4 separate regions of the Homo sapiens genome follow, and regions 1, 2 and 4 are each linked to region 3. Evidence: fine-mapped expression QTL. A gene starts in region 3. Each other region holds a variant in brackets. All regions are shown on one strand. Distances are between the middles of the regions. Region 1 overlaps TMC5 (transmembrane channel like 5). Region 2 overlaps TMC5 (transmembrane channel like 5). Region 3 holds the start of TMC5 (transmembrane channel like 5). Region 4 overlaps LOC105371114 (a long non-coding RNA gene).

The links. PIP is the estimated chance that this variant, and not a neighbour inherited with it, causes the effect.
Region 1: its variant is fine-mapped to the expression of TMC5 in whole blood (INTERVAL, PIP 0.96).
Region 2: its variant is fine-mapped to the expression of TMC5 in whole blood (INTERVAL, PIP above 0.99).
Region 4: its variant is fine-mapped to the expression of TMC5 in thyroid (GTEx, PIP above 0.99).

What each region holds. Positions count from the first base shown.
Region 1 is chr16:19,436,622-19,442,057 of GRCh38, forward strand. It overlaps TMC5 (transmembrane channel like 5), which reads left to right. Exons shown (of 22, transcript NM_001261841.2): 3 at 3,339-4,205. The coding sequence starts at 3,418. Among named protein-coding and RNA genes, the nearest start is that of TMC5, 21 kb to the left of the region's middle. The variant G/A (reference allele first, on the strand shown) is at 3,247.
Region 2 is chr16:19,487,785-19,493,220 of GRCh38, forward strand. TMC5 (transmembrane channel like 5) reads left to right here. Exons shown (of 22, transcript NM_001261841.2): 18 at 2,611-2,784; 19 at 4,366-4,444. It overlaps TMC5-AS1 (TMC5 antisense RNA 1), which reads right to left and starts at 117. Exons shown (of 3, transcript XR_007065016.1): 1 at 40-117. RefSeq lists an enhancer at 224-912. The variant A/C (reference allele first, on the strand shown) is at 2,425.
Region 3 is chr16:19,415,341-19,420,776 of GRCh38, forward strand. TMC5 (transmembrane channel like 5) reads left to right here and starts at 2,543. Exons shown (of 22, transcript NM_001261841.2): 1 at 2,543-2,752.
Region 4 is chr16:19,379,708-19,385,143 of GRCh38, forward strand. All of the region lies in intron 1 of LOC105371114 (a long non-coding RNA gene), which reads right to left. Among named protein-coding and RNA genes, the nearest start is that of TMC5, 35 kb to the right of the region's middle. The variant C/T (reference allele first, on the strand shown) is at 2,729.

The sequences.
Region 1 (5,436 bases), 21 kb after region 3:
GTCAGAATTCTTTTTTTTCATTTGCAAATGACAGACACCCAACTCAAACCAGCTTTAGTCAAAAAGAGAATGTAATGACTCAAGTATCCAGCTGCCTTCAGGTTTGGCTGGATTCAGGTGTTTAAATGATGTCATCAACATCTGACAATGTCATCAACATCTGGCTCCTCTTTCTGTTTATCTCTTGGTTCTGTTCTCCTCCCTGTTAGCATCACTCTTAGGCCCTTCTCTACTGGTGACCACTGGCAGCTTCAGGTTTAAAATTTCCTAACTTTGGCCGGTTGCAGTGGCTAACACCTGTAATCCTAGCACTTTGGGAGGCCGAGATCAGATTGCTTGAGCTCAGGAGTTTGAAACCAGCCTGGGCAACATAGAGAAACCCTGTCTCTATAAAAATACAAAAATTAACCAGGCATAGTGGTGCACACCTGTAGTCCCAGCTACTCAGAATGCTGAGGGAGGAGGCTCACCTACGCTTGGGAGGTCGAGGTTGCATCGAGCTGTGATCATGCCACTGCACTCTAGCCTGGACGGCAGAGTGAGACCCTGTCTCAAAAAATAAAATAAAGTAAAATTTCCTAGCTCCAAGGCCGGCAGAAGGCAGAGCTTCTCTCTTCCCTACAGTTCTGATAAAACTCCCAGAATTGAATCTCACTGGCTTTAACTGGGTTGTATGCTCTGACAGAATCACTGTCTCCAGGAAGAAAATAATTCTGATGGGTCATATTCCACACCTGGCCCACAGGGACTGACTGTGTGGGAGAGGTGTTACCCAGGGAAAAGTGTTAACCACAAAAGCGAGAAATGGATGCTGTGCAGGGACACAATAATGAAACACAGATGTCAACTATGCTGAGAAATTTGGATGTGGGTTGGCACACGGACATTCTGAGACTGTAGGTGTTGGCAGAAAGTTAATATTATCGTAGCTCTGATTACTCAAGTCTAACCCTTGTCATTTACATAGAGATAAACTTGTAAAAGTTGGCTGAGCTTTAAAAATGTTCTACTTCCTTATTTCAAAAATATTGCCGTTCATCTCATCATGCTGGCTTGAAACTGTAGAGATATGCTTGACTTTTATTTTCCTTCTCATCCTTTCCCTACTGGATCAGCCAACAAATCCTATTGATTCTTTCTTTAAATTTTCTGCCCTACTAATTACTCTTTTTCTCTATTCCCTCTGACATGACATTGGAAGCTCCAGGCTTATGTATATATTCTATCCCCTTAGCCACCCCAGTGAAATAAGAGCACCTCTTTCCCAGTAAGCCTTGTCCTGGTCCTGGAGGACTGACTGGGTTTACATGCCCATTCTTGAGCCAAACTCTGTGGCCAGGGGGATGGTGGACACCTGAGTCATGTGACCATCCTGACCAGCCAGTCAGGAGTACAGTCAGCCCTTCCTGAATCACCTGGACCAAGAGCGAGGGAGAGTAGGCAAGTAAAAACAACAGGTATCCAACACACTTAGAAATGAAAACTGGAGGCCAGGTGCAGTGGCTTACGCCTGTAATCCCAGCACTTTGGGAGGCTGAGGCAGGAGGATCACTTGAGCTCAGGAGTTCAAGATCAGCCTGGGCAACAACATAGGGAGACCCCATCTCTACAGAAAATGAAAAAATTAGGACCACAAGATGCATGCTTGTGGTCCTAGCTACTCAGGAGGCTGAGATGGGAGGATCGCTTGAGTCCCAAGAGATCGAGGCTGCAGTGAGCTATGATTGTACCATTGTACTACAGCCTGGGTGACAGAGTGACACCCTGTCAAAAAAAAAAAAAAAAAAGAAGAAAGAAAAGAAAAAGAAAGAAAGAGAAAGAAAGAAAGAAAGAAAGAAAACTCAACCAAGCATGGTGACTCATGCCTATAATCCAAGCATTTTGGGAGGCCGAGACGGGTGGATCACCTGAGGTCAGGAGTTTGAGACCAGCCTGGCCAACATAGTGAAACCCTGTCTCTACTAAAAATACAAAAATTAGCTGGACATGATGGTGCACGCCTGTAATCCCAGCTACTCAGGAGGCTGAGGCAGGAGAATTGCTTGAACCTAGGAGGCGGAGGTTGCAGTGGGCCGAGATTGCACCACTGCACTCCAGCTTAGGCTACAGAGTGAGACTCCATCTCAAAAAAAGAAAAACGAAAAGAAAAGAAAATTAAAACTGCATCACCTCTTATTTCAAAGTGTTAAAAGAAAAACTTTAGACAAACTAGAGGTAACAGGGTTTAATCAAACAAAGAATGATTTGCTAATGGGACAGCCTCCCCAGCCAGAATAGGTTCTGAGGGACTTAGGTGCTGCCACATGCTGGGTCAAAGAAGATTTATGGACAAGAAAAGGGAGATGACATAGAAAAAATGGAAGTGAGGTTCAGGAGCAATGGATTGGTTACAGCTCAGCATTTGCCTTATTTGAACACAGTTTGAACAATTGGTTGCCTGTGATTGGCCAAAATTCAGTGATTGGTACAAGAGTAGGTTATAGTCTGTTGACACCTCTTAGTTAGGTCACAGTTCATTATGTACAGAGAAATCTTTAGGCCAAACTTAAAATATGTTAGGAGGTAGCTTTGGGCTAAATTTGACAAAAGTATCCTGTGGTCTGTGGATCAGAGCTGGTGGAGCTCATAAAATCTTATTTTCAAACTGGAAGGGGTCATAGCAATTGTCTACTTACCCTAGTCCTCTAGTTTCCATTAACCATTCTTCTTTTATGCACTTATATTAATTTATGCTTTGAACCCTAGAACCTCAAGTGTAATCAAAAAGCACAAAAAGTCCTTGTTTCTTTCAATCCTTTGGTTCACTGGTCCCCTCCCCCATAACCAAGGGAATATATTGTTCAAGATGAAAGCTTAGTTGCATGTGTTAAAGACCACAAAAACAGTGGTTTAAACAAGATAATTTTATTTCTCTCTCACATAATAGTCTTAGCTGATACAATGGCTGTGCTCTGTGAAGTCACCAGCAACCCAGCATCCTTTCCTCTGTTGTGCATTTATCCCAAATGCAGGTCTTGGCTTTGTGTGCATGACCCAAGATGGTGCACCGTCATTTCCGCATTCCAGCCCAGAGGAAGCAAGATGGAGAAAGGGAGAAATAACCTCTTTCCTCTAACAGCACAGCTGGGAAGTTGTGGGTATCACTGCTGCTCTCATCCCATTGACCATCCTCATGTTCATACCTTGGTGCAAGAGAATCTAGAAACATAGTCTTTATTCTAGGCAGTTGTGTACCTGACTACGAAC[G/A]AAAGGAGAACAGATACTGGAAGATAACCAGCAATCTCTGCAGGGAAGAAAGGGAAAAAAATCTGACTTTTTCTTTTCTTCTTGTTTTTCAGGTGAAAAAAAAAAAAGATCCCTGAGTAATTGCAAATGCTGGGACAGTTTACCACTCCAGGGTGAAGAGTCCATACCAACATGTCTGCCTACTACAGGAATAACTGGTCTGAGGAAGACCCAGATTACCCTGACTATTCAGGGTCTCAGAACCGTACGCAGGGGTATTTGAAAACTCAAGGTTATCCAGATGTTCCAGGTCCTCTGAACAATCCAGACTACCCCGGCACCAGGAGCAATCCATACTCTGTAGCCTCCAGAACACGTCCAGACTATCCTGGGTCTCTGGCAGAACCAAATTATCCTAGATCTCTGAGTAATCCAGACTATTCTGGCACCAGAAGCAATGCATACTCTGCAGCCTCTAGAACAAGCCCAGACCATCCTACCTCTCTACCAGAGCCAGATTATAGTGAATTTCAGAGTCATCCCTACCACCGAGCATCATCCAGACAACCAGACTACCCTGGATCTCAACGAAATCCTGATTTTGCAGGCTCCAGCAGCAGTGGAAACTATGCAGGCTCCAGAACACATCCAGATCATTTTGGCTCCTTAGAACCGGACTACCCTGGAGCTCAGAGCAACTCTGATCATCCTGGACCCAGAGCCAATTTGAACCATCCAGGATCCAGAAAGAATCTGGAACATACAAGTTTTAGAATCAATCCATACGCAGACTCTCTGGGAAAGCCTGATTATCCAGGCGCTGACATTCAACCTAACTCTCCACCCTTTTTTGGGGAGCCAGACTATCCCAGTGCTGAGGACAATCAGAACTTGCCAAGCACTTGGAGAGAACCTGATTATTCAGATGCTGAGAATGGTCATGATTATGGCTCTTCTGAGACCCCAAAGATGACCAGGGGGTAAGTTCAGATATATATCCCTTCACTGGGAGTGGATGCTGAGTGCTGAATCATTAAGTCAATGGAATTTGGTTGGTGTGGTTTAGATTAGGGATATATATGACGGTTTCTATGACCTGAAGTTGTGGTGAAATGCGCATACCTATCTGTAGACCTTACCTGGGCCATGGACTCTCAGTTTGAGGCTTCAAGCCCTTACTTGAACTTAATCTTTCACCATCTCTTCCTTGGATCACCTTCCCATTATCCCACCTCTTCCTAATTCAATCCCTGTAAGACATCTAGATCCACACTGTTTTGACCCTGCTACGTAGCCAACAAGGTTAAGACTTGACGCTCATAAATCCAAACACTTTAATTAAAATTACATCAACAGTGATGAATTGTTATCCAGAAAATCTTTTGGAGATCTAACTCCGTGAAGTCGATTAGTTTTTTATATGAGATGTTTGCACCACTTCTTTGTTTTTTTTTTTGGTCATTTTTTTTTCTTATTTTTTTTATTTTTCTTGAGACAGGGTCTTGCTATGTCACCCAGGTTGGAGTGCAGTGGCACAATCATAGCTCACCACAGCCTCAACCTTCTGGGCTCAATTGATCCTCCCACCCCAGCCTCCCAAGTAGCTGGGACTACAGGTGTGCACCTATTATGCCCGGCTAAGTTTTTATTTTTGTATAGAGATGGTGTTTTGCCATGTTGCCCAGGCTAGTCTTGAAGAAGGCTCCCAGCTGCTGGGATTATAGGCATGAGCCACCATGCCCGGCCATGTTTGCACCACTTCTGATTTTTACACTTTTATTTCTATTTTACTGAGATTATCAGAATTGATGACTTTTCACCAAAACTTTACTGCAGATTTGATTCACTGATTATCTGCACTATTTTAATCTAATTTTATCAATTATAGTTTTCACCATTTTCAGTATTCCTTTAAGGCCGGTTTTTTGTTGTTGTTGTTTTTTATTTATTTATTCATTCATTCATTCATTTTTTGAGATGGAGTTTCGCTCTTGTTGCCCAGGCTGGAGTGCAATGGCACGATCACAGCTCACCACAGCCTCTGCCTCCCGGGTTCAAGCGATTCTCCTACCTCAGTCTCCTGAGTAGCTGGGATTACAGGCATGCGCCACCACGCCCAGCTAATTTTGTATCTTTAGTAGAGACAGGGTTTCTCCACGTTGGTCAGGCTGGTCTCAAACTCCCAATCTGAGGTGATCCACCTGCCTCAGC
Region 2 (5,436 bases), 72 kb after region 3:
CAGGAATGACCATCACTAAAAAGATAGTTTATTACTCACAGTTCCTGAGAAGAGGGGGCACTCTATGCCACAAGGGACCACACAGGGAAGCATCAGGGTTGTTCAGGAGGCAGAGGGAGTGAGGGGAAACGGGCTAGAGGCTTTATTGTGGTTTTCTATGGTAAGGAATGGGCAAGGCAGGGGAAGCAGGTTTAGGGTTGGCTGGTTTGTCAGTAGGCTGTGGGATATGGATCCGCCCTGAGTTGTCTGGCACCTGGCCCTGGGGTGATTAGGGCAGGGGAGTGGTGGCCCAGAGTGTGAGAGCCTGATAAAGGGGGCGGTTGCGGGTGTGGGATCTGGATTGGTTGGTTTGCATTTGAAAGGTGTGCTTTGTAAGCTAGCCCAGGGAAGGGCAGCTAGCCCTGGGAGCTGGAGTCAGTAAGACCCCAGATGTCAAAACATCAGAATAAAAAGACATGCTTAATACAGTGCCTAACTCAAGTTCCCTGGCTAACCAACAGACACTAAAAGCCAGGGAGGGAATGCATCCTAGTTTGATCACCACCCATCCGATGCCCACGGTCAGGAGTAGCTTTCTCACTTCTGCCAAGAACTGAAGCTTCCCAGAATGGGGAGATGCCCCCCCACCCCGTTCCTCCACATCCAGAACAGAACTTCATCTAAATTAACAGAAAGGCAGGACTCATCTGGCTCCTCCCACCTCTCCAACCCCACTTCCCTTTGGCTCCACTGTTCCCCGCCCCACCACCCTCACCCCATTCCTGGAAGCCAGCAAGCCCCTCCCAACAAGGGCAGAGTCCTCTGAGTGAAGTCCTTTTCCCACTCCCTTTGCTTGGCTGCCTCCTCTCCACCCTCTGATTCTCAGCTCCAAGGCCCTCTCCAAGATCTGATCTTCACAGCCCTCCTTGTCTGCTCTCAGTTCCCCACTGCTTCTCTCTCTCAGACCTGAGTTTCTTTCCTTCATTCTATCATTCATAATCAGGAATGCCTCTGTGTGAGTCTTTAATTGTTACTCAACGATTGTCCGTTTTTCCCACCAGAATGTAATCCCAATAGGGCAGGAACTTGCTTAATATGAAGTCCCCAGAGCCTGACTAGAACAGTGCTTAACAGAATAAGCCATGGTTGAATGAACAATTGAATGAATTAATGAACAAGGGAGATGATTTTTAGGACACATGTGAAACTGGGGCTCTCAGTTCCTTGCTCCACAACACCCTTGCTCCTCTTGGCATATCCACTCTCTTCTCTCTCTTCCTTGCTCCACAACGCCCTTGCTCCTCTTGGCATATCCACTCTCTTCTCTCTCTTCCTCACCAGTTCCTTGTTGCCCTATAGTTTCTGCTCATTCCTCCATAGCTAACAGGCTTCCCTCTTTATGCTTCTTAATTCAATTTCTTTCTTTGAGACAGGGCCTTGCTCTGCCACCCAGGCAGGAATGCAGGGGCGCAATCACAGCTCAAACTCCTGGGCTCACGTGATTGTCCCACCTCAGCCTCCCGAGTAGCTGGGACTATAGGCACACATCACCATGCCTGGCTAATTATTTTTTTATTTTTTATTTTTTTGAGACAGAGTCTCACTCTGTCATCCAGGCTGGAGTGCAGTGGCGCAATCTCGGCTCACTGCAAGCTCCGCCTCCCAGGTTCACGCCCTTCTCCTGCCTCAGCCTCCTGAGTAGCTGGGACTACAGGCGCCCGCCACCACGCCCAGCTAATTTTTTGTATTTTTAGTAGAGACAGGGTTTCACCGTGTTAGCCAGGATGGTCTTGATCTCCTGACCTTGTGATCCACCCGCCTCGGCCTCCCAAAGTGCTGGGATTACAGGCATGAGCCACCGCGCCTGGCATGCCTGGCTAATTTTTTTTTTTTTTTTTTTTTTAGAAATGGGTGTCTTGCTATGTTGCCTAGGCTGGTCTCGAACTCTTGGCCTCAAGAGATCCTTCTGCCTTGGCCTCTCAAAGTGCTGGAATTGCAGGCGAGCCACCATACTTGTCTTTAATTTCATTTCTTTTTTTTTTTCAGACAGGGTCTTGCTCTGTTGCCCAGGCTGAAGTACAGTGGTGTGATCACAGCTCACTATAGCCTCAACCTCCTGGGCTCAAGTGATCCTCCCACCTCAGCCTCCTATGTAGCCAGGACCACAGGCATGTGCTGCCATGCCCAGCTAATTATTTTTTTGTAGAGATGGAGTCTCACTATGTTGCCCAGGCTGGTCTTGAACTTCTGGGCTCAAGCAATCCTCCCACCTTGACCTCCCAAACTGTTGGGATTAGAGGCATGAGCCATAGTGCCTGGCCTTAATTCAACTTCTTAAGAAAAAAAGTCTGACTGCCCCCATTCATATCATTGAGCCAAGTTACTGCAGAAGTCACTGCTTGGCCTTTGGATTGGCTGCTGTTGGGTCAGCTCTGATCTGAGAGC[A/C]GGTCCTTAGAGTACAGGTCACCCCAGCAAGGCTGAGAGCAAGAGGGTTTCTTTGGGAAGTGGGTGTGATTGGATCAGGCAAGACTTGATGTTTTCAGGCCCAGAGCCCAGAAGGGACACCCTGATTCTAGAATAACCATCCCTGAGTCTTGTGCTAGAGATGTTCTTCCATCTTTGTTTTACCAGATTGAAGCCTTCAGCTGACTGTGGCCCTTTTCGAGGTCTGCCTCTCTTCATTCACTCCATCTACAGCTGGATCGACACCCTAAGTACACGGCCTGGCTACCTGTGGGTTGTTTGGATCTATCGGAACCTCATTGGAAGTGTGCACTTCTTTTTCATCCTCACCCTCATTGTGCTGTGAGTGTGGTACCCGGGGAATCTAGCAGGGAAAGCCAGGAGCTCTCGAGGGAAACAGCAGTAGGGATGTTTGGTTGGAAAGCAAATGGCTATAGCATAGCTCAGTGTTCTGGGTGACTCTACCCTTGCATAGGTAGTTTTCTTTCCTTCCTTCCTTCCTTCCTTCCTTCCTTCCTTCCTTCCTTCCTTCCTTCCCTTCCTTTTTTTCTTTTCTCTTCTCTTCCCTTCCCCTCCCTCCCTCTCTTTCTCCCTTTCTCCCTTCCCTTTCCTTTCAGTTCCGTTCCTTTCCTCTTCATTTTTTCTTCCTTCCTTCCTTCCTTCTTTCTCCCTTCCCCTCCCTTCCCTTCCCCTTCTTTCTCCCTTCCCCTCCCTTCCCTTCCTTTCCCCTTCCCCTCCCTTCCCTTCCCTTCCCCTTCTCCTTCCTTCCTTCCTTCCTTACTTCTCTCTTTCTTTTTTGGTTGAGACAGGGTCATGATCTCTCACTCAGGCTAGACTGTAGCGGCATGGTCATGGCTTGCTGCAACCTCAACCTTTCAGGCTCAAGCCATCCTCCCACCTCAGCCCCCAAGTAGCTGGGCTTGCAGGTGTGCACCACTACACTTGGCTAATTTTTAAATTTTTTGGAGAAATGGGGTCTCCCTGTGTTGCCCAGGCTGGTCTCAAACTCCTGGCCTCAAATTATCCTCCTGCCTCAGCTTCTCAAAGTGTTGGGATTACAGGTGTTAGCCACCTTGCCCAAGCTTGCATTGATAGTTTTTTTGAAGTTACTTAGCCTGGTGCAGTGGCTTGTGCCTGTAGTCTGAGCTTCTTGGGAAGCTGAGATGGGAGGATTGCTTGAGCCTAGGAGTTTGAGGCTGCAGTGTTCTCTGATCGTGCCACTGCACTCCAGCCTGGGCAACAGAGCAAGACCCCATCACTGGGGGAAGGGGGGAAAGGTTATATATACTATCTTCTTGTCTTAGGGATTTTTTTTTTTTTTTTTTTTGAGACAGAGTCTCGCACTGTCACCCAGGCTGGAGTGCACTGGCGCGATCTCAGCACACTGCAAGTTCCGCCTCCTGGGTTCATGCCATTCTCCTGCCTCAGCCTCCCGAGTAGTTGGGACTACAGGCACCCACCACCACGCCCAGCTAATTTTTTGCATTTTTAATAGAGACAGGGTTTCACTGTGTTAGCCAGGATGATCTCGATCTCCTGACCTCAAGTGATCCGCCCGCCTTGGCCTCCCAAAGTGCTGGGATTCCAGGCATGAGCCACCGTGCTGGGTCATCTTAGGGACTTTTTTTTTAACTTATTCTATTAAGAAAGCAATACCTGCTTTTCTCCTCTTAAGGAGATGACATGCCCAGAGATGCTCAATTAATTGGTCTGAAGAGGAGCTGTGGCATGGGCTTATTTCCCCCTTCAGGAACCATTGTTCCAATGTATTTAACCTATAACTCTCCCTGACATGACTTTTCAGAAACATGTTTGGGCCAAATCCATCTGCAAGCACAGATTCCAGTTCCTTTGCATCCAGTGGAAATTCAGAGCCTGCAAAACATTTGCAAGAGTGTCATTCTTTCTTTTCTCCTCTTCCAGAATCATCACCTATCTTTACTGGCAGATCACAGAGGGAAGGAAGATTATGATAAGGCTGCTCCATGAGCAGATCATTAATGTAAGTCCCCTTGGATCCCTCTGATGTCCGCCCTCACCCTTTTTAAACGCTGTATAAACATCCTCCAAAATAAAGAGAATACTACAATGAACTCTCATATCCCTGCTCTCAGCCCTAACAACCATCAATGTTTTTATATTCTTATTTCATCTACACTTTCTCTTCCCAGCAAATCCCTTATTTTTATTCTTAGTATTTATTTATTTTAATTATGATGATTATTATTATTATTTTGAGATAGAGTTTTGCTCTTGTTGCCCAGGCTGGAGTGCAGTGGTGCAATCTCGGCTCACGGCAACTTCTGCCTCCAGGGTTCAAGCGATTCTCCTGCCCCAACCTCCCAAGTAGCTGGAATTACAGGTGCCTGCCACCATGCCCAGCTAATTTTTGAATTTTTAGTGGAGACAGGGTTTCACCATGTTGGCCAGGCTGGTCTCGAACTGCTGACCTCAGGTGATCCACCTGCCTCCCAAAGTGCTGGGATTACAGCCATCACACCCAGCCTTATTTTATTTTTTTAGAGGTGGGGGTCTTGCTATGTTGCCCTGGCTGGATTCAAATTCCTGGGCTCCTGCCTCAGCCTCCGGAGTAGCTGAGATTACAGGCAGGTGCCACTCCATCTGGCTCCCTGGATTATTTTAAAGCAAATCTTAGGCTTTATATTATTTTTTATTTATTAAAACTTAGATATATATATATATATATCTCTCTATAAGATAAATACTTTTATTTCATTTATTTATTTATTTTGAGACAGAGTTTCACTCTTGTTGCCCAGGTTGGAGTGCAGTGGAGCAATCTTGGCTCACTGCAACCTCCGCCTCCCGGGTTCAAGCAATTCTTCTGCCTCAGCTTCCCGCATAGCTGGAATTACAGGCGCCTGCCACCACACCCGGCTAATTTTGTATTTTTAGTAGAGATGGGGTTTCTCCATGTTGGTCAGGCTGGTCTCAAACTTCCGACCTCAGGTGATCCGCCCGCCTCGGCCTCCC
Region 3 (5,436 bases):
GTGGTTCTCAGGGGGAGGCAGTTTTGCCTCCCAGGGGATATTTGCCCATTCCTGAAGACATTTTTGGTTGTCGTAGCTTGCAGATGGGGTGGGGTTGGGGTGTCCTCCTGGTATCTAATAGATAGAAGCCGGACATACTGCTAAACACCCTACAATGCACAGAGCAGTCCCCCCAGCTCCCCACAACAGGCAGTTGTCTGGCCCCAAATGACAGTACTGCCAAGGTTGAGAAATCCTGACTTATAGCTACAAAAGAATCAAAATCACTGCTTTGACTTCTTGCCAGGAGCTCGTTTGGCGCAGCTCCACAATGATTGGCAGGCAGAACCGCACGATCCAGGTGTTCCTAGAGTCAAATGCTGCCAGGTACTGCCCTTTCACCCCAGTAATGACAGCTCTTGGGGCAAACCAAACTGTCTTCTTGGAAACCACCACCCTCCTCCTCTCATTTCCTCTGATCATACAATTTATAACTCAGGTCTCTTCCACAGGAGAAAATTCCATTTCTCCATTGGAAAGCCACTGTTTTGCATTTAGTGCTAATACATCAAAGATTGGGGCTGGGTGCAGTGGCTCATGCCTGTAATCCCAACACCTTGGGAAGCCAAGGTGGGATGATCACTTGAGCCCAGTAGTTTGAGACAAGCCTGGGCAACGTAGAGAGACCCCATATCTATAAAAATTTAAAATGTTAGCCAAATGTGGTGGTACATACCTGTAGTCTCACCTCCTTGGGAGGCTGAGTGAGGCAGGAGGATTGCTTGAGCCCAACAGTCAGAGGCTGCAGTGAGCTATGATTGCACCACTGCATTCCAGCCTTGGTTGACAAAGCAAGAGCCTGTCTCAAAGGAAAAAAAAAAAAAAGAGGAACGGTAACTATAGACCCCAATACTTTCTGTGAATTATAGAACTAGGACATTCTTTTTTTCTTTTAAATGATACTCCCCCAAATGCAAATGCCATAGGAAACAGATTTTGTTTGTTCTGGTATTTGTAAAAATACAGAAATTTGATCCAGCCCTCAATTGTCTACCTCCTTCTTTATTTCTGTATGAATATAAAATCTCCTTCTCAGAGAAAACCCTTTGTGATGGATTAGCATCCCATCTGCTGGGGTTTATCCCTGGGAATGTGAGTCTTAGGTGGCTAGAAATAATCTTAGTCCAAACTTTCTCAAATGTTAACTGATGTAGCCCTTATCAACACTAGGAGGAGGGAGTGTATATAGTTCCCACTTTGTAGGTTAATGGGGAGGAAATTGAGGCTCAGAGGAGTTGAGACATTACAGTCTTAGAGTGCCAGAGTCAGCATTTGAATTCGAGTCAACTGTCTTGAAATGTGGGCTGGTTTTATACTGCCTGTCCTTTGTTTCCAGAAGGGACATGCCATTGGTGATCATAACTACAGAGTTAAACCTGTATGGTCCGCATGTTGCCAAAGGGGATGTATCTATAGAAAAATGTGGCCAGGCGGCCAGATGCAGTGGCTCATGCCTGTAATCCCAGCATTTTGGCAGGCCGAGACAGGTGGATTACCTGAGGTCAGGAGTTCAAGACCAGCCTGGCCAACATGGTGAAACCCCATCTCTACTAAAAATACAAAAATTAGCCAGGTGTAGTGGCAGACACCTGTAATCCCAGCTACTCGGGAGGCTGAGGCAGGAGAATCACTTGAACCTGGGAGGCGGAGGTTGCAGTGAGCCCAGATGGCGCCATTGCACTCCAGCCTGGGCGACAGAGCAAGACTCAGTCTTCAAAAAAAAAAAAAAAAAAAAGAAGAAAAGAAAAACGTGTCCAGGCCAGGTGCAGTGGCTTACGCCTGTAATCTCAGCAGTTTTGGAGACCGAGATGGGTGGATCACTTGAGCTCAGGAGTTCAAGACCAGCCTGGGCAACACGACAGAACCCCAGCTCTTCAAAAAATACAAAAATTAGTCAGGCATGATGGCTTGCACCTGTGGTCCCAGCTGCTTGGGAGGCTGAGGCAGGAGGATCCCTTGAGTCCAGGAGGCGGAGGTTGCAGTGAGCTGAGATTGTGGCACTGCACTCCAGCCGAGGTGACAGAGGGCAACGCTGTCTCAAAAAAAAAAAAAAAAAAAAAAGGAGCCAGTGCCCGGGGGTGTCTAGTGGAGCATCACGTTCCATTCTTTGTTGGATTAATGAATTCAGGTAGTCTCTTCCCACACCACCTCACACTCTAGGGTTAAAAAAAAAACACAAAACGAATCTATTTACTTCCTTATGGTGTCCAAGAAATAAAATAACCTCTAGAAAGGACTTTGATATTTTCATTGAGCTGATAACAAAAGAATATTAATGAGAGGGAGGAGTTAGGGCTTAGGAAGAAGGAAATGCACAACTTGGGACCTGAGTTAGGCCTTCATCGTCGCGGACTCAGTAGACAGAGGCCATAGGTGCAGCTGTGATGGTAGAGGTGGAAGACTGATTTGCATTTTCACCAGGTGAGACCTGGTTACTCATTGGTTGATGAGGAAAGAGATGATAGCCAGGGCGGCATAAAACGGCAATGAGCTCAGTAAACAACCCCCTTCCCGTGATCTTCGTGGCTTCCCGCCCAGACGTGTGACCAAGATAGCAAGGAGCAGTCTTTAAGGCGACACGGCAGAGAGGCAGAAAAAGATGGGCCTTACCGGTTAGTTAAGAAAAAAAGAGGACCTGTTGCCTGTCCCTCTAGCTTTGAACTACAAAGTGGAGGGGAAGTTTGTCTGGATTTTCCTGTAGAACTGAGGGCAGGTAAGTGAAAGTGCTTTGAAGGAGGGGTGGGAGGTCATGGGAATAATGCGGAATGCTTGGGAACGTGTCAGCGAAGGAGGACGGAAACTGAGGCTGTCGTATTGCTTATTGCCAGACGAGGGTACAGAATTGAGGCACAACAGATGTTTGTTAGAGGAAAGAATGACCAGGGGAAATGGGAGGCAAGAGAGTGTTGATTATGAGAACAAGCCCTAGGGTTATCTGCTTGAGTTGGAATCTGGGCTTCCCCAGGTCTAACTGTGGGATTCTGGGTCAGTTATTGTATGTTTCTGGCCTTGGTTTCCTTGTCTGTAGAATGGGTAGTATGCCAAAAGCTCCCACTTCCACAGGTGGATATCAGAGCTAATAAAATACGGTGCACGACAAACACGCAATAAATGTGACCTCTATGTCTGGGGGTGTCTCCTGGAGCATCATGTTCTAGAAGAATGCTTTGTTGGATGAGTGAATTCAGGTGGTCTCTCCCAATGGTATTTCATTTTCTGAGATTTAAAAAAAAATCTATTTACTTCTTTATGGTGTTCAAGAAACAATAACTTCTCATTTTTCTCATTCTTCTCATCCTTCTCATTTTTCTCATCCTTCTCTTCTTCCTCTGATAAGTGATTTTTGTGTTTTTTTTTTTTTTTTTCGAGACAATATCTCACTCTGTTGCCCAGGCTGGAGTACAGTGGTGAAATCATAGCTCACTGCAGCCTTGATCTCCTGGGCTCAAGCAATCCTCCTGCTTCAGCCTTCTGAGTAGCTGAGACTATAGGCACATGCCACCATGCCCGCCTACCTTTTATGATTTTTAGTAGAGACAAGGTCTGACTATATTGCCTAGGATGGTCTCAAACTCCTAAGCTCAAGCGATCCTTCTGCCTCAGCCTGCCAAAGTGCTGGCATTACAGGCATGAGCCACCATGCACTGCCAACAATGATGTTGTTGATGATGATGATCCAAGCCCAGCGTATGCAATCAGAGAGGTATGGGTTTGAATCCCATTCTGCCTCTGTTTAGCTGTGTGACCTTGAGTGAGTTACTTAACCTCTCTGGGTCTCAATGTAATCATAAAATGGGGATAATAATACCTCCCCATAAAGTTGTTTGAGCATTCAGTTGCTGATACATGTGAAGGGCATAGCCCTGTGCCTGGCATGCATGTCAGCACTCAATAAATAGTGCTGTCTTCATGCTTATTACTGTTGTTGTTATTATTATTAACTTATTATTATTGTTATTGTTTGACTAGATTCTTTCTACACTAGAGAGGGGAAAAGAAGCTCAGTGGAAATGAATGTGTTGGTTTTTTTTTTTTTTTTTTTTTTTTTTTTGAGACAGTGTCTTGCTCTGTCGCTCAGGCTGGAGTGCAGTGGTGCGATCTCGGCGCATTGCAAGCTCCGCCTCCCAGGTTCACGCCATTCTCCTGCCTCAGCCTCCGGAGTAGCTGGGACTACGGGCGCCTGCCACCATGCCCGGCTAATTTTTTGTATTTTTAGGAGAGACGGGGTTTCACCGTGTTAGCCAGGATGGTCTGAATCTCCTGACCTCGTGATCCATCCGCCTCGGCCTCCCAAAGTGCTGGGATTACAGGCGTGAGCCACCGCGCCGGGCCACTAATGTTAAAAGTAGGGTTTATTGTCATACTTTGCCAGAAAAGGTCCTGTCCCCAGAAGACAGGGTCAAGTTCAAGCTATAGAGTATCTTCATAAACACTTAATGAATAACGCAATGAATCATATTTGCCAAGATTTTTCGGGATGACGTGGCAGGAGGTGACGCTATTATTGCTCAGGTTATTTCTAGTCACCCAACGTTCATCATTCCCAGAGATAAATCACAGCAGCTAGAATGCTAATCATCAGTTATGGTCATTTCTGCGAAGGCATTCATAGGGAAAGGAATATTTATAGGGAGTGTAGTGGTGTGATCATAGCTCATTGCAGCCTTGAACTTCTGGGCTTGAGTGATCCTCCTGCCTTAGCCTCCTAAGTAGCTGGGACTACAGGCGTGCACCACCATTAATGATTAAAAATCAACTAATTTTAGGCCAGGTGTGGTGGGTCACGTCTGTAATCCCAGCACTTTGGGAGGCCAAGGAGGGCAGATCACGAGATTAGGAGATCAAGACCATCCTGGCCAACATGGTGAAACCCTGTCTCTACTAAAACACAAAAAAAAATTAGCCAGGCATGGTGGCACACACCTGTAGTCTCAGCTACTGGAGAGGCTGAAGCAAGGGAATCACTGGAACCCACGTGGCGGAGGTTGCAGTGAGCTGAGATCATGCCACTGCACTCCAGCCTGGCAACAGAGCAAGACTCCGTCTCAAAAAAAAAAATAAAAAAAATTAAAAATCAACTAATTTTAAAATTTTCTGTAGAGACAGAGTTTCACTCTGTCCCCCAGGCTGGAGTGCAGTGGCATGATCATAGTGCACTGCAGCCTCAACTCCCTTGTTTCAAGTCATCATCCAGGCTCAGCCTCCTGGGTAGCTGGGACTAACGGCTGCATGCCACTGTGCTCAGCTAATTTTTAAAATTTTTTGTAGAGCCAGGGTCTTGCTATGTCACCTAAGCTGGTCTCCAACTCCTGGTTTCAAGCAATCCTCCTGCCTCAGCCTCCCAAAGCCCCAGGATTACAGGATTGAGCCATCTCGCCTGTCTGAACATAGGTATAA
Region 4 (5,436 bases), 36 kb before region 3:
AAAAAAAAAATTGTAGAGACAGGGTACCACTATGTTGCCCAGGCTGGTCTTGAACTCCTGGGCTCAAGTAATCCTCCTGCCTTGGCCTCCCAAAGTGCTAGGATTACAGGCATGAGCCACTGCACCTGACCTTAATTTTTTTTTAAAGAGAGTATCAAGTCAAATTACTTTTCAGAAAGTTGATTTCAAGCAACATTGCCACCAGCAGTTTGTTTAAAGGTTTCATATCCCAGGCCTTCCACCTTGGCCAGCCCTGGATGACATTATGCAAATAGAAATTGAGGTATTCCACTGTTTCAGGGGCCTCTGGGGATACAGCAGTGACCAAAATACACAGGTCATTGCCCTCATGGGGCTTGTAATCTATGAAAGGGGTGAGGAGATACAATAAACTGCTTGCCAAGTAAATATGTCATTTGTCAGACGGCAATTGGTGCTATGAAGAAAATCAAAGTGGTTGATTTTCCACCCAAGAAGGTGGAGTGGGGTGCTAGTTTACATAAGGAGTTCAGCATCTGTCACTGATACGATGACATTTGAGCAGAGAACTGAAGGAAGAGCATCCCAGGTGGAGGATAAAGCAAATACAGTGAACATGATATTTTCAAAATTCAGCAGGGAAAATCATTATTTTTAGATCCATAGTAGAGCGGTGCTGGGGAGTATTGAGATAACTTTGTCCAGCAGGTAAGTCCAAAGGTATTTCTGTTTGACTCTGAAGCCCCTTGTACTTGCAGCTGATTTGCTTCGAGATTAGGGTTGGCTAAAGCTAACACTAAAATTAGCTTTCGTTTCCTAAATAAACAGCAGCTGGCAGTACATTTGGGGGTGGAGAGCAGCCTGAAAGAGCAGGGTAACAAGAAAAAAAATTGAGGTTTTCACATTTGCTAAGGAAGGAGAGATGCATATCAGTAACTGAGTCAGGTGATATATTCAAGCCTCCCTGGGTGATGGTGTCTTCTGAAACCATAACATGTTAAAATCCTCACTGTCATCAGAAATATTTTCCTTTCCCTCCTCCTCCTTCATTCAATCACCAAATCCTGTAATATCTCCCTCAGAATGAGCACATGAGGCTGGGCACAGCGACTCATGCTTGTAATCCCAGCATTTTGGGAGGCCAAGGCAGGCATTAGGGCCAGGAGTTCCAGACCAGCCTGGGTAGCATGGTGAAACCACATCTCTACCAAAATATGTATATATATATATATACAAAAATTAGCTTAGCTGGTCATGGTGGCACACACCTGTAGTCTCAGCTGCTTGGGAGGCTGCGGTGGGAGGATCACATGAGCCTGGGGAGGTCAAAACTGCAGTGAGTGATGATTGCACCACTGCATTCCAGCCTGGGCAACAGAGCAAGACTCTGATTAAAAATTTTTTTTTTTTGCTGGGCATGGTTGTGCACACCTGTAGTCCCAGCTACTCAGGAGGCTGAGATGGAGGATCACTTGAGCCCAGGAGTTTGAGGCTACGGTGAGTTATGATTGTGCCACTGCACTCCAGCCTGGATGACAGAGCAAGACCCTGTCTCAAAAATAAAATAAAATAAAAATAAAATGCCAACATGATAATGTCACACTCTTATATTAGTAATGTCTGTTTATTCCCAGCTAGAACTCTCATCTTTGGCTTAAATAGACACTCACAACCTTAGCTCCTTTTCCATCCTTCATTCCTGCCACATCTGCCCCAGATGTGCTCTGCTCCTGCCACACTCACCTCAAATGTAACTGTGGTGGCCAGCATCCAAGATGACCATCAGGGATTATCATCTGGCAATGATGCCCGTGTCTGATCCCTTTCCATGTTGGATGGAGCTAAGCGATCTGTAGGATATTGCAAAAGTGGCAACATATAGCTTCCAAGCATAGATCATTAAAGATGTTGTGTCTTTCTCCTTGCTCTCTCTTGAGCTGCTCTCTTGGGGAAGTCAGCCATCCTGTTGTGAGGACGCTGAAGCAACCCTGTGGGAATATCAGTGTGGTGAGAAACTGAGGCCCCCAGCCAACAGCCATGCGCGTGAGCTGCCTTGGAAGCCTGACTTCACACATCCACCTGATGACTTCTGGAAGCCTGACTCCACGTGTCCACATCTGCTCCATCTCCTTCAGAACTAGGCTGTTGGCCAATGCCCCTGTTTGTGTCTTGCTATTTCACTTGGACTATGACTAGGATTCAGGGGGCAAAAATCACCAATTATGGTGAATTCATGTTTTAGTTGATGCAGCTCCCATCAGCAAGGGCTTTTGCCTTTTTTAATGAAAATACCCACCTGGCATGGTGGCTCACACCTGCACTTTGGGAGGCCGAGGCAGGTGTATCGCTTGAGCCCAGGAGTTCAAAACCAGCCTGGGAACATGGTGAAACCCTGTCTCTACTAAAAACAAACATTAGCCAGTCATGGTGGTGCACACCTGTAGTCCCAGGTACTAGGGAGGCTGAGGTAGCAGGATTGCTTGAGCCCAGGAGGTGGAGGCTGCAGTGGGCCATGAGCATGCCACTGCACTCCAGCCTGGGAGACTGAGCAAGACCATGTCTTAAAAAAAAAAAAGAAAAGAAAGAAAAGGAAAAAAGAAATACCCAAAGCCTGAGCTGACCTGGTGATTCTGCCACCCCTGCAATCCTGATTGAATAATGCAACCCAAATTGGTCATAAATTATTCTCATGTAATTTGAAATCATCTACCACAAGGAGAACAAACACAAAAACTGCATAATCTCACAG[C/T]TTGCTGATAAGAACAGAGGGCTTACCAGTGGCAGTGAGGGCTTGGTGCTTGCCCTTGAAAGTGGAGTTCTCATCTGGAATTTCTATAATAGACCCAGAGTCAACAGCCAGGTTCATGCCTGAGGGACCTCAAGGACCATACTGGTTGCTCTGTGAAATGACTACCCCTGGCTTTTGGGAGGTTTAGAGATGACTTGAGCTCTTCATAACTAAAAACATCCATGGCATTTGAGCCTCACCCAATCTCTCAACTTTGTCATTCCCTGGGGATTTAGGGTGCACCGTTGGCTGGGGAACCAGCTGGCTAAAGAGAGAGGCAGTGCACCTGAGACTGTACATGAGCCCGGGCACCTGAGACAGGGAATCTGAGACAGTACTCTCTGTACTTCTTTATCCTCCTCTATAAAGTGATTCTAATAATAGCATCTACCTCTGTAGAAGAAAAAATTATTCAATGGCACATGTTAAAATACGGTAAGGCAGATTTTTCAGGACCATCATGATAGGTATAGGGAACATAGTAATGAAATTTTGCAATGGGAGAGAGATTGGGCTCAGTCTTAAATGGCTGGCCGGCTAAGTGGCTGACTGGGAGGCTGGGTGAGGGGTAGGCTGGGAGGCTGGCCGAGTGGCTGTCTTGGAGGCTTGCCAGCAGGCTGGCTGGCCCGCTGAGATGCTGGTGGGCTGGCTGAGAAGCTGGTCGAGAGGCTAGCGGGCAGTCTTCCTGGCTGAGTGAGAGGCTGGCTGGCTGAGAGTCTGGCTGAGAGGCTAGCTGAGATGTCGGCTGGCTCCGTCTGGGTTGGATGAGGACACTTTGGAGGAGGGAGCAGGAATAAGGAAGATACCCTTACCACCTGCTATCCCCCAGAGCTGGGAGCACCCGGCGCTGAGGGTGGGAGGCGGCAGTGACCGGGCACAGCTTATAGCACCCGGCTCCCTCCGTGCACCCTCGGATGCCAGGAACACCTTCCCTATGAGCACTCCCCATGGCCCTACCGTGGTGGACTGCGGGCCGCAGTCTCTATCTTATCCTCAAAGGTTTTCTGTAGATCTAAAACTGTTCTAAAACAGAAAATTATGTGTGTGGGTAAGTAATTTCCTGGCTCAAAATAAAAGCTATTTTCATTGTGGTTAAGGGTAAGGTCACTGGATGAGAACCTGGTTTCCGATTATTTCCTGTGTGAGCTGGACCACATGCCACAACCTTTCTGAGCCTGTTTTCTCATCCATAAAATGAGGATATAAGACTAGAGCTTAGGTCTCAGGGCTGTGGCAAGAACAATTGCCTAGAGGCAGCCTATATTTCCATCGATAGGAGATGGATTAAATAAATTTTGACACATCTGTGCAGCAATTACCTCTATATGTAGATATATAGAAAATTATATTTATAGAAGGTTTATTATTATTATTATTAATATTCTGAGATGGAGTCTCTGTCGCACAGGCTGGAGTGCAGTGGCGCAATCTCGGCTCTCTGCAAGCTCCACCTACGGAGTTCACGCCATTCTCCTGCCTCAGCCTCCCGAGTAGCTGGGACTACAGGCGCCCGCCACCACACCGGCTAATTTTTTGTATTTTTGGTAGAGACGGGGTTTCACCATGTTAGCCAGCATGGTCTCGATCTCCTGACCTCGTGATTCGTTGGCCTCGGCCTCCCAAAGTGCTGGGATTACAGGTGTGAGCCACTGCGCCCAGCCTATAGAAGGTATATTATGAAGTGAAAAAGCAAGGTGGAAGCTAGACATAGTGGCTCATGCCTATAACCCCAGAATTTTTGGAGGCTGAGGCAGGAGGTTCGTCTGAGTCCAGGAGTTTAAGACCAGCCTGGGCAACATAGCAAGACACCCATCTCTACAAACAATAAAAAAGTAAAAATTAGCCAGGGATGGTGGCACATGCTTGCAGTCCTGGCTACTCAGGAGTCTAAGGAAGGAGGATTGCTAAGCCCAGGATTTCAAGGTTACAGTGAGCCATGCTCATGACACTGCACTCCAGCATGGGTGACAGAGTGAGACACTGTCTCAAAAACAAAACAAAACAAAACAAAACAAAACAAGATGCCAGGTAAGCCACCTTTGGGGTTAAAAAACCAAGAATATATGTGTATATGTTTGTAAATGCATCATACATCTCAGGACAAGGGCAGGGAAAATTTTACTGATTACCCCTTTTTTTTACTAAATAGACATATTACTAATACATGCTCAAATTTTAAAAAATGATCTTTAAGTCTGTGGCACAGAGGAAGTGTCAGGAAATGATGGCTATTTCTATTGTGAGACAATTCCTCCCTCTTCCCTTCCTTACTGGAGGCCACCTCCCCACCCCCAGTCCCAGCCTGCAGATCTGGAAAGGGATGGGTGGAACCCAGTTGTTCCACGTATGGAAGATGGAATGTGATGGAGGCGAGTGGTGACTGTGCAGTGACCTTAGAGAGAAGACCCAGCACTTCCTGCTGGCTGCACCTGGCACCTGGCACCTGGCACCTGGCCCTGACTTGGATCTGCACCTGAGCCAGGGAGACCTCAGTTTTTTTCTTCCAGGAGCAGAAGAATGAACCAGGTTCCTGAAGGAGACTTCCCACTCCCAGAAGAGGAACAATTTTACAGGAATAGAAATTGGATAGTTCTTCAGGAAACAACAGTCTCTTAAATCTCCTGTTTGAAGGAATAGAAGACGACCATTTAGGAGGATGTCTTTGTTCT